Homo sapiens: one gene and its partners. The protein of the gene in region 1 interacts with the protein of each later gene in a biochemical or structural test. Each region holds a gene or a part of one and is shown in the gene's direction. Other genes may lie near its edges.

Evidence for each region.
Region 2: the proteins of SIRT3 (region 1) and OPA1 form a complex in vitro, tested with the Homo sapiens proteins (one study listed by IntAct).
Region 3: of the proteins of SIRT3 (region 1) and GLDC, one has a biochemical effect on the other in vitro, tested with the Homo sapiens proteins (one study listed by BioGRID).

The regions. Positions count from the first base shown.
Region 1 is NC_000011.10:226,312-229,966, reverse strand, and holds part of SIRT3 (NAD-dependent protein deacetylase sirtuin-3, mitochondrial), read left to right. Parts: intron 1-3,655.
Region 2 is NC_000003.12:193,694,200-193,697,954, forward strand, and holds the end of OPA1 (dynamin-like GTPase OPA1, mitochondrial), read left to right. Parts: intron 1-406; 3' UTR 407-3,612; downstream 3,613-3,755. UniProt on the Homo sapiens protein: Dynamin-related GTPase that is essential for normal mitochondrial morphology by mediating fusion of the mitochondrial inner membranes, regulating cristae morphology and maintaining respiratory chain function.
Region 3 is NC_000009.12:6,590,117-6,593,771, reverse strand, and holds part of GLDC (glycine dehydrogenase (decarboxylating), mitochondrial precursor), read left to right. Parts: intron 1-781; coding exon 782-921; intron 922-1,548; coding exon 1,549-1,629; intron 1,630-3,655. UniProt on the Homo sapiens protein: The glycine cleavage system catalyzes the degradation of glycine.

The DNA.
Region 1 (3,655 bases):
GTTCCACTGATGTATGCACCACAGTTGGTTTGTTTGTACATGGATGGGTGTTTGGGTTGTCCCACCTTTCTGCTCTTGTGTATAGTTCTGCTGTGGAGCATATGCAAGTATTCGTTTGAGAGTCCTTGTTTTTTATTCTTTTGAGTATGATACCTACAAGTATTGCTGGGTAACTCCACGTTTAGCTATATTTATTTATTTATTTTTTGAGACACAGTCTTACACTGTCACCCAGGCTGGAGTGCAATGGCGCGATTTCGGCTCAATACAACCTCTGCCTCCCGGGTTCAAGCGATTCTCCTGCCTCAGCCTCCTGAGAAGCTGGGATTACAGGTGCCTGCCACCATGCCCAGCTAATGTTTTTTGTATTTCTAGTAGAGATGGGGTTTCACCATGTTGGCCAGGCTGCTCTTGCATTCCTGACCTCAGGTGGTTCACCCGCCTCGGCCTCCCAAAGTGCTAAGATTACAGGCGTGAGCCACCATGCCCTGCCCATGTTTAACTTTTTTGTTTGTTTGTTTTGAGACGGAGTCTAGCTCTTATCACCAGGCTGGAGTGCAGTGGCGCAATCTCGGCTCACTGTACCATCCGCCTCCTGGGTTCAAGCGATTCTCCTGCCTCAGCTTCCTGAGTAGCTGGGACTACAGGCACACACCACCACGCCCGGCTAATTTTTGTATTTAGTAGAGTAGTTTCACCATGTTGGCCAGGATGTCTCGATCTCTTGACCTCGTGATCCGCCTGCCTCTTTCTCCCAAAGTGTGGGATTACAGGCGAGAGCCACTGCGCCCGGCCCGTTTTAACTTTTTGAGGAACGAATATACTGTTATCTGCAGAAGCTGGACCATTTTACATTCCACCAACAGTGGGCAAGGGTTTCATCTTTTCCACATCCCAACACTTACTTTCCATTTTTTAATTACAGCTATCCCAGTGGGTGGGAGGTGGTAACCCACTGTAGCACTGATTGGCATTTTCCTAATGATTCATGATATCAAACATCTTTCCATGTGCTTTTTGGCCATTTGTATATCTTTGGAGATTGAAGTCCTTTGCGCATTGTTTAATTGTGTTGTCTTTTTTATTGTTAAGAGAGTCCTTTATATATTCTGGAAGCTAGATCCTTATCAGAGACATGATTTGCAAATATTTTCTGTCATTCTGTAGGTTGTCTTTTTTACTTTGTTGATGTCTTTTGATGCATAGAAGTTTTGATTTTGATGAAATCTAGTTTGTCTATTTATTTTCTCACTCTTTTGGAATCATATCTGAGAAATGGTATTGTTTTACTCCTGTTTTCTTATAAGAGTTTTATAGTTTAAAGCTTTTACATTTAGTTCTTTGATCCATTTTGAGTTAATTTTTGTGTGCGCTGTAAGGTAGGGATCCAGCTTCATTTTCTTTTATGTGGATATGTAATTGTTCCAGCACCATTTGTTTAAAAAAACTGTGGTCTTGGCATTGTTGTTGAAAATCAGTTGGCCATAGGTGTATGGGTTATTTCTAGAGTCTCAATTCTATTCCATTGTTATCTGTATATCCTTGTGCCTGCACTATAATGTTTTGGTTACTGTAGCTTTGTAGTAAGTTTTGAAATTAGGAAGTGTGAGTCCAGCACATAGTAGAAACTTGATATATACGTATTATTGTTTTGGTCAACTCATTCATTGAATGACCAATTTATTCAACAAATAGTTTAGTCTCCTCAGTGCCAGGCCCTTTGCTGGGTTCTGTGGATGTGAATAGAAATTAAAATAAGGTGGAGTCATCCAACAGTTACAACTGGGTGCCATACGAATTTTACTATAAATATGTACTGGACACTACACTGACTCAGCTGTAGGAACAGAGTAGGCTGGGAAGCACCTTTGAGATGAGGCCGTCTGGATGTAAGAGTCTGTTTCTGGCAGCAGAGACCTGGAGTGTGGGAGGCCTGCTTGCTCTGTTAGGGTTTGAACTGTATCCTGACGATCATGGGAGGCATTGGAGGATTTTTAGGCAGGAAAATGATGTGAAGGGATTTGCATTTAAAAGAGATTATTTGGGACTGGGCACAGTGGCTCACGCCTGTAATTCCAGCACTTTGGGAGGCCTAGACAGGCGGGTCACCTGAGGTGGGAAGCTTGAGAGCAGCCTGCCAAAATGGTGAAATCCCATCTCTACTAAAAATACAAAAATTAGCCAGGTGTGGTGGTGCACCTGTAATCCCAGCTACTCAGGAGGCTGAGGCAGAAGAATTGCTTGAACCTGGGAGGGGAGGTTGCTGTGAGCTGAGATCGCACCACTGCACTCCAGCCTGGGTGACAGAGTGAGACTCCATCTCAAAACAAAATAAATAAATAAATAAGAGAATAAAATAGATAATTTGGGCAACAGGTTGATGTTAATTCCCCACCTTTGTTCTTCTCCTTCAGTACTGTGTTGGCTGGTCTGAATCTTTTGGCTTTTCATATAAATTTCTGAAACTGTTGCTATCTGTTCTCTGCCTGTTTTATTTTTGTTGTTGTTGTTTGGATTTTTTGTTTTTTTGAGATAGAGTCTTGCTCTGTTGCCCAGGCTGGAGTGCAGTGGTATGATCTCAGCTCATTGCAACCTCCCCCTCTCAGGTTCAAGCGATTCTCTTGCCTCATCCTCCTGAGTAGCTGGGATTGCAGGCATGCGCCACCATGCCCAGCTAATTTTTGTATTTTTAGTAGAGATGGGGTTTCACTATGTTGGTGAGGCTGGTGTCGAACTCCTGACCTCATGATCCACCCGCCTCGGCCTCCCAAAGTGCTGGGATGACAGGCATGAGCCACCGTGTCTGGCCTCTCTGCCTGTTTTTTAAGACTTTTGTCTTTGGAGTTTTGCGGTTTCTCCACTGTGGTTTTCCATATGAATTTTCTTTTATTTCTTCTGCTTAAAATTTGTAGGCCAGTTGGTCATGGTGGCTCACGCCCGTAATCCCAGTACTTTGGGAGGCCGGGTGGGTGGATCGCCTGAGGTCAGGAGTTTGAGACCAGCCTGACCAACATGGAGAAACCCCATATCTACTAAAAATACAAAATTAGCCGGGCGTGATGGTGCATGCCTATAATCTCAGATACTCGGGAGGCTGAGGCAGGCGAATTGCTTGAACCAGGGAGGCGGAGGTTGCGGTGAGCTGAGATTAGGCCATTGCACTCCAGCCTGGGAAACAAGAGCGAAACTCCATCTCAAAAAAAAAAAAATAATAATAATAATTGTAGGCCTTCCTTAAGAAAAATAAAATAAAATTCTAGGCTGGGCGCGGTGGCTCCTGCCTGTAATCCCAGTACTTTGGGAAGCTGAGGCGGGTGGATCACCTGAGTTAGGAGTTTGAGACCAGCCTGGCCAACATGGTGAAACCCCGTCTCTACTAAAAATACAAAGATGAGCCATTTGTGGTGGCACCCATCTGTAATCCCAGCTACTCGGGAGGCTGAGGCAGGAGAATTGCTGGAACCCAGGAGGCAGAAGTTGTAGTGAACCGAGATCATGCCACTGCACTCCAGCCTGGGTGACAGAGCGAGATGCCATCTCAAAAAAATAAAATATAAAATAAAATTCTAAGCCCTGCAACCAACTGAATGGAGCCCTCCCCTTGGTCAAGGGAACCCCAGAGAAACCTTGGAAGCTTGAGTTCCTGGCCGTAGCA
Region 2 (3,755 bases), on another chromosome or scaffold:
AGATGCATTTAAAAGAATAAATCTGGCAGAATGGTAACCTTGCTTCATTCTGACCATTTTATCAAAGTTACCAAGGACCCTAAGGAATACTTTCTCAAGTATAGTTTTAACACATAGGATTCCTAATTAATTGTTATTCTAATATTTGCTGAAGGTGTTTATATGCTATACAGTCATACACAGATTCTTCTTCAATTAATTTTAGTATATGCTTTTAACTTATGTTTGATAAAAAAATTATGCCAATATTGTTAGGTCGGTGATAGACTATATAAGTTTAGTAAAACTAGCAAAGGTAAGCGGTTAGGCTTCAACATTGTTGTGATCATGCAGTCATCAACTTTGTTTAGAAATTTTGCATTTATCTCCCCTGACCTCAGTTTGTTAAATGGGTTTATTTTTACAGAATCGTACTCATAATCAGCTCTGCATACATCTGAAGAACAAAAACATCAACGTCTTTTGTCCAGCCTCTTTTTCTTCTGCTGTTCCACCTTTCTAAACATACAATAAAGTCATGGGATAAAAATAATCGATGTATGTTACGGGCGCTTTAACCATCAGCTGCCTCTCGAATGGAAGAACAGTGGTAATGGATTAACATCCTATTTTGTTGTACTAAAGTGACAAATCGGAATAATATAATTGGTATGGCCATTAGGTTCAGTCCTTGAAGATAAGAAACTTGTTCTCTGTTTGTTGTCTTATTTGTGGTGGCACTCGTTTAATGGATTAACTGAGGTTGCTCAATGTTCAGTTTCTTTTCCAGAAATACAATGCTAGGTGTTTTGAAATAAAACTTATATAGCAATTGTTTAAAGTTATCAATTGTATATAAAATCACAGTAGCCTGCTAAATCATTGTATGTGTCTGTAGTATTCTATTCCCAGAAACTATTTGACCATGATAATTCAGTTTATATTCACCACATGAAAGAAAAATGGGTAACAGAAGAACCCTTAAAACAGGTTAATTTGGATTGTAACGTTCAGTGAAAGAAATTTCAACCCTTCATAGCCAGCGAAGAAATTTGCCTTGGAAGCCAAGTCAGTACCAGCTTACCTATTTGATTCAGTTGCTGTTTTCTCACTCTCTATATCCATTTGAAATTGATTTATTTTAGATGTTGTATACTTACGTTAGGCTTTCTGTTAATAGTGGTTTTTCTCCTGTTGACAGAGCCACCGGATTATGACACAGGATGAGGAAGATTAAGGATAATCAATTGACTAATTTCATTTAGAATATTATCAAACATTTCAACTAGGTATCAGAAAAAGGCTTTCTTTCATAAGACTATTTTAAATAGAAATTATTTCAACAATTAAAGTAATGTTGACCATCCCCCTCTCAGCTGAATAAAGAAAAATTTAGTTCAATTTATTGCAATTTAATTACAATACTACCTTCACAACATTTTCATGTGTTTTAAATAAATATTTTTTAATTGGCTAAAGGACATTCAAGCAAAGAAATGCTTTCTTTACTTAAAATGTCTATCTCATTTGCTGCCTTTTCACTAAGCCTTTACTTTGTTAATAAAAGTGTCCATTGTGTGATGTTTTTGATTTTACAGTTTGCTAAATCTTATTTTCTTGGAGTTGCTTTTTGGTAACAGCCCCATTGCTACTCCCCATTTTATTGTTTTACATCAATGCATGCTTCGTTGTGATCCCTCAAGATGTAACACTTGGTATGCTCGGTTGAGGATATGAAAAAATACTTCCGAAACCAGGAATTCAATGTATGTTTGTTTTATACTGTTTGATAAGAAAAGTAGGTCCAGCCTTAAGCAGCACAGATGCGCTGGTAGATGCATAGTCAGGAACTTTTTTTATTTCTTTTAGGTCTAGGGACAGGAGTGAATAGAAAGGGAGGAGAGCTCTATTATGTTCTATACACAGATTAGGAGATGACCTTACTGGGTACACCCCTCTAACCAGTGCTTACAGGTTAATGCATGTTAATGAATATTTTTGCAGTTGTAAAGCATAACAATTACAACTACACATCTATTTCTAAAGAATAAAACAGGACCATATTTATTTACTTCTGTCAACTATAGAAAGAAAGACCTTCAGCTGTATTTCCACAGATTTCTCCCAAGGAAAAGGCTAATATTAGTCACTACTGTTATCACATCCCTTTGTATAAGTTTTAAAAAGAGATGGAGGGAGATCTTCATTTCTTTGAGGAGATCAGTATTGTAACGTATGTGAATAGATGATAACAATTAATATTACTAAAAGTCCCACATGAGAGTCCTGACGCCCTCTCCATGCCCCACAGTAATGTGGCTTCTTTCATGGGTTTTTTTTTCTTCTTTTTAGCTGATCTCATCCTAAGCATGCTTTATTTTTCCTTGAAAGCTAGGTATTTATCAACTGCAGATGTTATTGAAAGAAAATAAAATTCAGTCTCAAGAGTAAACCCTGTGTCTTGTGTCTGTAGTTCAAAAGTCAGAAATGATTCTAATTTAAACAAAAAGATACTAAATATACAGAAGTTAAATTCGAACTAGCCACAGAATCATTTGTTTTTATGTCAGAATTTGCAAAGAGTGGAGTGGACAAAGCTCTGTATGGAAGACTGAACAACTGTAAATAGATGATATCCAAACTTAATTTGGCTAGGACTTCAATTTTAAAAATCAGTGTACCTAGGCAGTGCACAGCACGAAATAAGTGGCCCTTGCAGCTTCCCCGTTTAACCCACTGTGCTATAGTTGCGGGTGGAACAGTCAACCTTTCTAGTAGTTTATGATATTGCCCTCTTTGTATTCCCATTTTCTACAGTTTTTTCCGCAGACTTCTTTCTGCAAATTATTCAGCCTCCAAATGCAAATGAATGATATAAAAATAAGTAGGGAACATGGCAGAGAGTGGTGCTTCCCAGCCTCACAATGTGGGAATTTGACATAGGATGAGAGTCAGAGTATAGGTTTAAAAGATAAAATCTTTAGTTAATAATTTTGTATTTATTTATTCTAGATGTATGTATCTGAGGAAAGAAATCTGGTATTTTTGCTTTCCAATAAAGGGGATCAAAGTAATGGTTTTTCTCTCAGTTCTCTAAGCTGGTCTATGTTATAGCTCTAGCAGTATGGAAATGTGCTTTAAAATATGCTTACCTTTTGAATGATCATGGCTATATGTTGTTGAGATATTTGAAACTTACCTTGTTTTCACTTGTGCACTGTGAATGAACTTTGTATTATTTTTTTAAAACCTTCACATTACGTGTAGATATTATTGCAACTTATATTTTGCCTGAGCTTGATCAAAGGTCATTTGTGTAGATGAGTAATTAAAAAATATTTAAATCACATTATAATTCTATTATTGGAGAGCATCTTTTAAATTTTTTTCTGTTTTAACGAGGGAAAGAGAAACCTGTATACCTAGGGTCATTATTTGACCCCATAGTATAACCAGATTCATGGTCTAACAAGCTCTCAGTGTGGCTTTTCTCTGAATGCTTGAATTTCACATGCCTTGCATTTCACAGTTGTACTCCATGGTCAACCGGTGCTTTTTTTCACATCGTGGTACTTGTCAAAACATTTTGTTATTTTCCTTGGTAAAATATATAAAAAAGGTTTTCTAATTTCACTTTGCTGCCAAGGCTGTCATTTTCATTAATGCTGCCAACATGTTCATATGAGGCTTACTAAGAAGTTATAACTAAGCTTTAGAACTGGAAGAGACTTTAATTTCATCTACCATCTGATTATAAACTCCTGTTACTCACTTTG
Region 3 (3,655 bases), on another chromosome or scaffold:
GCAGTGTGCCAAGATTGCTCCACTGTACTCCATCCTGGGCAACAGAGTGAGACTCCATCTCTCAAAAAAAAAAAAAAAAAGTGATTAAATCATGGTTCATCCATATGTTTGACTATTGTACAGCCATTAAATATGGTTTAAAATAGTGATCTATAGGAAAGCATAGATGAGACCAGGTGTGGTGGTTCACACCTATAATCCCATCGTTTTGGGAGGCTGAGGTGGGAGAATTGCTTGAGTCCCAGAGTTCAAGGCCAGCCTGGGCAACATGGCAAGATCACTGTCTTCAAAAAATTTAAAAAATTATTAGCCAGGTGTGATGGCATGAGTCCTTGATCCCAGTTACTTGGGAGGCTGAGGCAAGGGGATTGCATGAGCTTGAGCCCAGGAGTTTGAGGATGCAATCAGCTATGATCATGCCACTGCATTCCAGCCTGGACAACAGAGTGAGACTGTATCTCTCAAAAAAAAAAAGGTATAATTTTATATATATATATATATATCTGATACTACCTGCTCCCCCATTTCTTGAGAAATAATACACCAAAATACACGCAGTAATGCAATTGTATGTTGATTTTCCTTACTCTTTTATATGTATTTCATAATTTTCTACAGCATGATAATAAACATGTTTAGTTTTTTAAAAAGCAATCACCAAAGCACTCCCCAGGACCAACAAGAGTCTAGTAGAATTTATCTCTTTATTATTCTGTGACATGTCAATGGCTGAGGAGCAGGTTTCTATATGAGAGTTTGGGGGATCTCCTATCTTGTGTAGGTCTCAAGCGAGCAGGGCATCAACTCCAGCATGACCTGTTCTTTGATACCTTGAAGATTCAGTGTGGCTGCTCAGTGAAGGAGGTCTTGGGCAGGGCCGCTCAGCGGCAGATCAATTTTCGGCTTTTTGAGGATGGCACAGTAAGTCAAATTTTCAGTATTTTTACCAGTTTTTCAAATTTTCACATTGTTTCTCATTAAAAGGTTTTCTCTTTGTTTTTAAAAAATAAAAAGGAAAACTTTAGGCACAGTCCTATTTTTTCATAAACAAGTGTTATTTACATTATGCAACACTGTGGTCTTTTCAGTAAAGGATCATTCACCCTTTGCTTTCTTTTAGACTTAGTGTTTTCATATGTGGGACTGAAATGCACATATTTTGTTCATAATACTCCTCTCTTCACAGTATGACTGACTTTAAGATAAAGGCTCTGATAACTGATATACAGGTTAAGGGAAGAAAATCTCCTCAATATCTGATAAGTGGGTTAAGGGAAGAAAAAGATAAGCATGTCTAGCTTCAAAAGGAGTGTCCTGCAGCCATGGAATGTTAGAGTTCAGAGGTGGCTGGCAAAACTCGAAGCCTTGTGAAACCTGGGACTGGTCTAGCCACCTTCCTCTAAGCCTTAGCGTGGAGATAATTGTACCCTGATATTTTGGAATGATGGGATTTTGTTTAGCACTGTCTCCCCTTTGACCTCTCTTGGGATTCCTCCAGTGATGTGGAGTTTAGAGTTGATGTTTTCCATTTTGTTTGTGTTTCTGTAGCTTGGTATTTCTCTTGATGAAACAGTCAATGAAAAAGATCTGGACGATTTGTTGTGGATCTTTGGTTGTGAGTCATCTGCAGTAAGTAAAATAAAAACATGCGTTCCTCATCATAACTATTGGAGGTGGTAGCAAAAGTAGCTTATCCCCTGAGTGTGAGGGAGAAGGGGCCCAAGTGTGACACTGGTAGCTTGTTGTTAAAATTATTCCACTGACTATCCCTTGCTAGTCACTGCTGACAGCTGGAGGTCACTGCTGTAGGGCTCCAGCCAGTATTATGCACCCAGGCTAGTTGGAAAGATTGTTAATGGTGTTTCATTGAAAGTGCCTCTAGGCTGGGGATGGTGGCTCATGCCTGTAATCCCAGCACTTTGGGAGGTCAGGGGGGCGGGGGGGCAGATCACCTGAGGTCAGGAGTTCAAGACCAGCCTGACCAACATGGAGAAACCCCGTCTCCACTAAAAATACAAAATTAGCCAGGCATGGTGGCACATACCTGTAATCCCAGTTACTCAGGAGGCTGAGGTGGGAGAATTGCTTCAACCCAGGAGGCGGCGGTTGCAGTGAGCTGAGATTGCGCCATTGCACTCTAGCCTGGGCAGCAAGAGCAAAACTCCATCTCAAAAAAAGAAAAAAGAAAGAAACTGCCTCTACTACAAAGATGCAAGACATTTGTATCTTGGTTATGTCATTCATTGGAAAATTATGATATTCATTTAATACATATTTATTGAGGACCCAATATGTGTCAGGTGCTATGCTAGGCCCTGAAGACACAGTGGTGAATTAGACATGCTTCTTGTCCTCCTGGTGCTTACAGTTTATTAGGGATTCAGATAAACAAGCTTAAGATTAGAATCCAGGTGACTGATGTGTGAAGATGTTCTGGGAGCTCACAGGATGAGCTCCTTACCAAGAAGATAAGCAGGAGTTATCTAGACCAAGATGGCACAAGAGGGAAAGGAAGATGGGTCCGAGTGTTCTAGACACTGGAGAAAGCAGTCACAAAGGCTGGGAGAGGGAGTACATGAAAGCTATAAGCAGTTCAGTGTAATGAGTTGCTTTCTAAAATAATGAAGTAGTGGGGGAAAGCAAGAGAAAAGTTACCATTCCATGGGATGAGAGTGAAAGAGAGCCGACAGTAGCTACCTAGACCTGTGGCAAGGTGTTAATCACAACAGCCTACACTGCCTGGTGTGTATTAATCACTAAGTAAATATTTGTTAAATGGATAGATGAAAGGAAGTAGAAATACCTTCCAGAGTGCTGAGTGGTGCTGTCTTGCTTATCTGTGCCCTCTTTGAGAGAGGACTTCAAAGGGTTATACCAGATAACATTCATAAATGATCAAAGAAGCATCACAGTGTTCTCTTTTAAACCTCAATTAAACAGGACTGAGTTAGCTCCTTCTCTGTAGAACTCTGCACTAAATTTAATCACAGATATTTGGTTCATGCATTTGAGAAATGTTTCTGGAGCATCACTAAGGGGTCAAGAGGGCCATTATTTTAGTTCATTTGCATTGGAGTACCTGAGGCTAAATAATTTATAAATAAAATAGCTTTATTTGGCTCATGTTTCTGCAGGCTGTGCTGTGCAAGAAGCGTTTGCTTCTGGTGAGGGTTTCAGGAAACTTCCTCTCATGAAGGAAGGGGAAGAGGAGCAGGCATCACATGGCAAAAGAAAAAGGAAGAGAGAGAGAGGAGGGAGGTGCCAGGCTCTTTTTAACAATCACTTCTCATCAGTTCTCATGGGAACTAGTAGAGTGAGAACTCACTCATTACTGTGAAGACAGCGCCAAGCCCATCTTCAACACTGGGGATCACATTTCACCCTGAGATCTGGAGGGGACAAGTATTAAATCTGTATTAGTCATATTATTAGCCTGGCAAGGAATGAGGATCAAGCCATGTATTGATTATATATTCTGGATATTAAATCCTTATCAGATATATGACTTACATATATTTTCTTCCATTCTGTGGGTAGTCAGTCTCTTAACTTTCTTGATAATGTTCTTTGATGCACACACATTTCAAATTTTATAGAAATTTAATTTATCTAATTTTTATATATGTTTATTGTTTATTCCTTTGGTGTCACATTT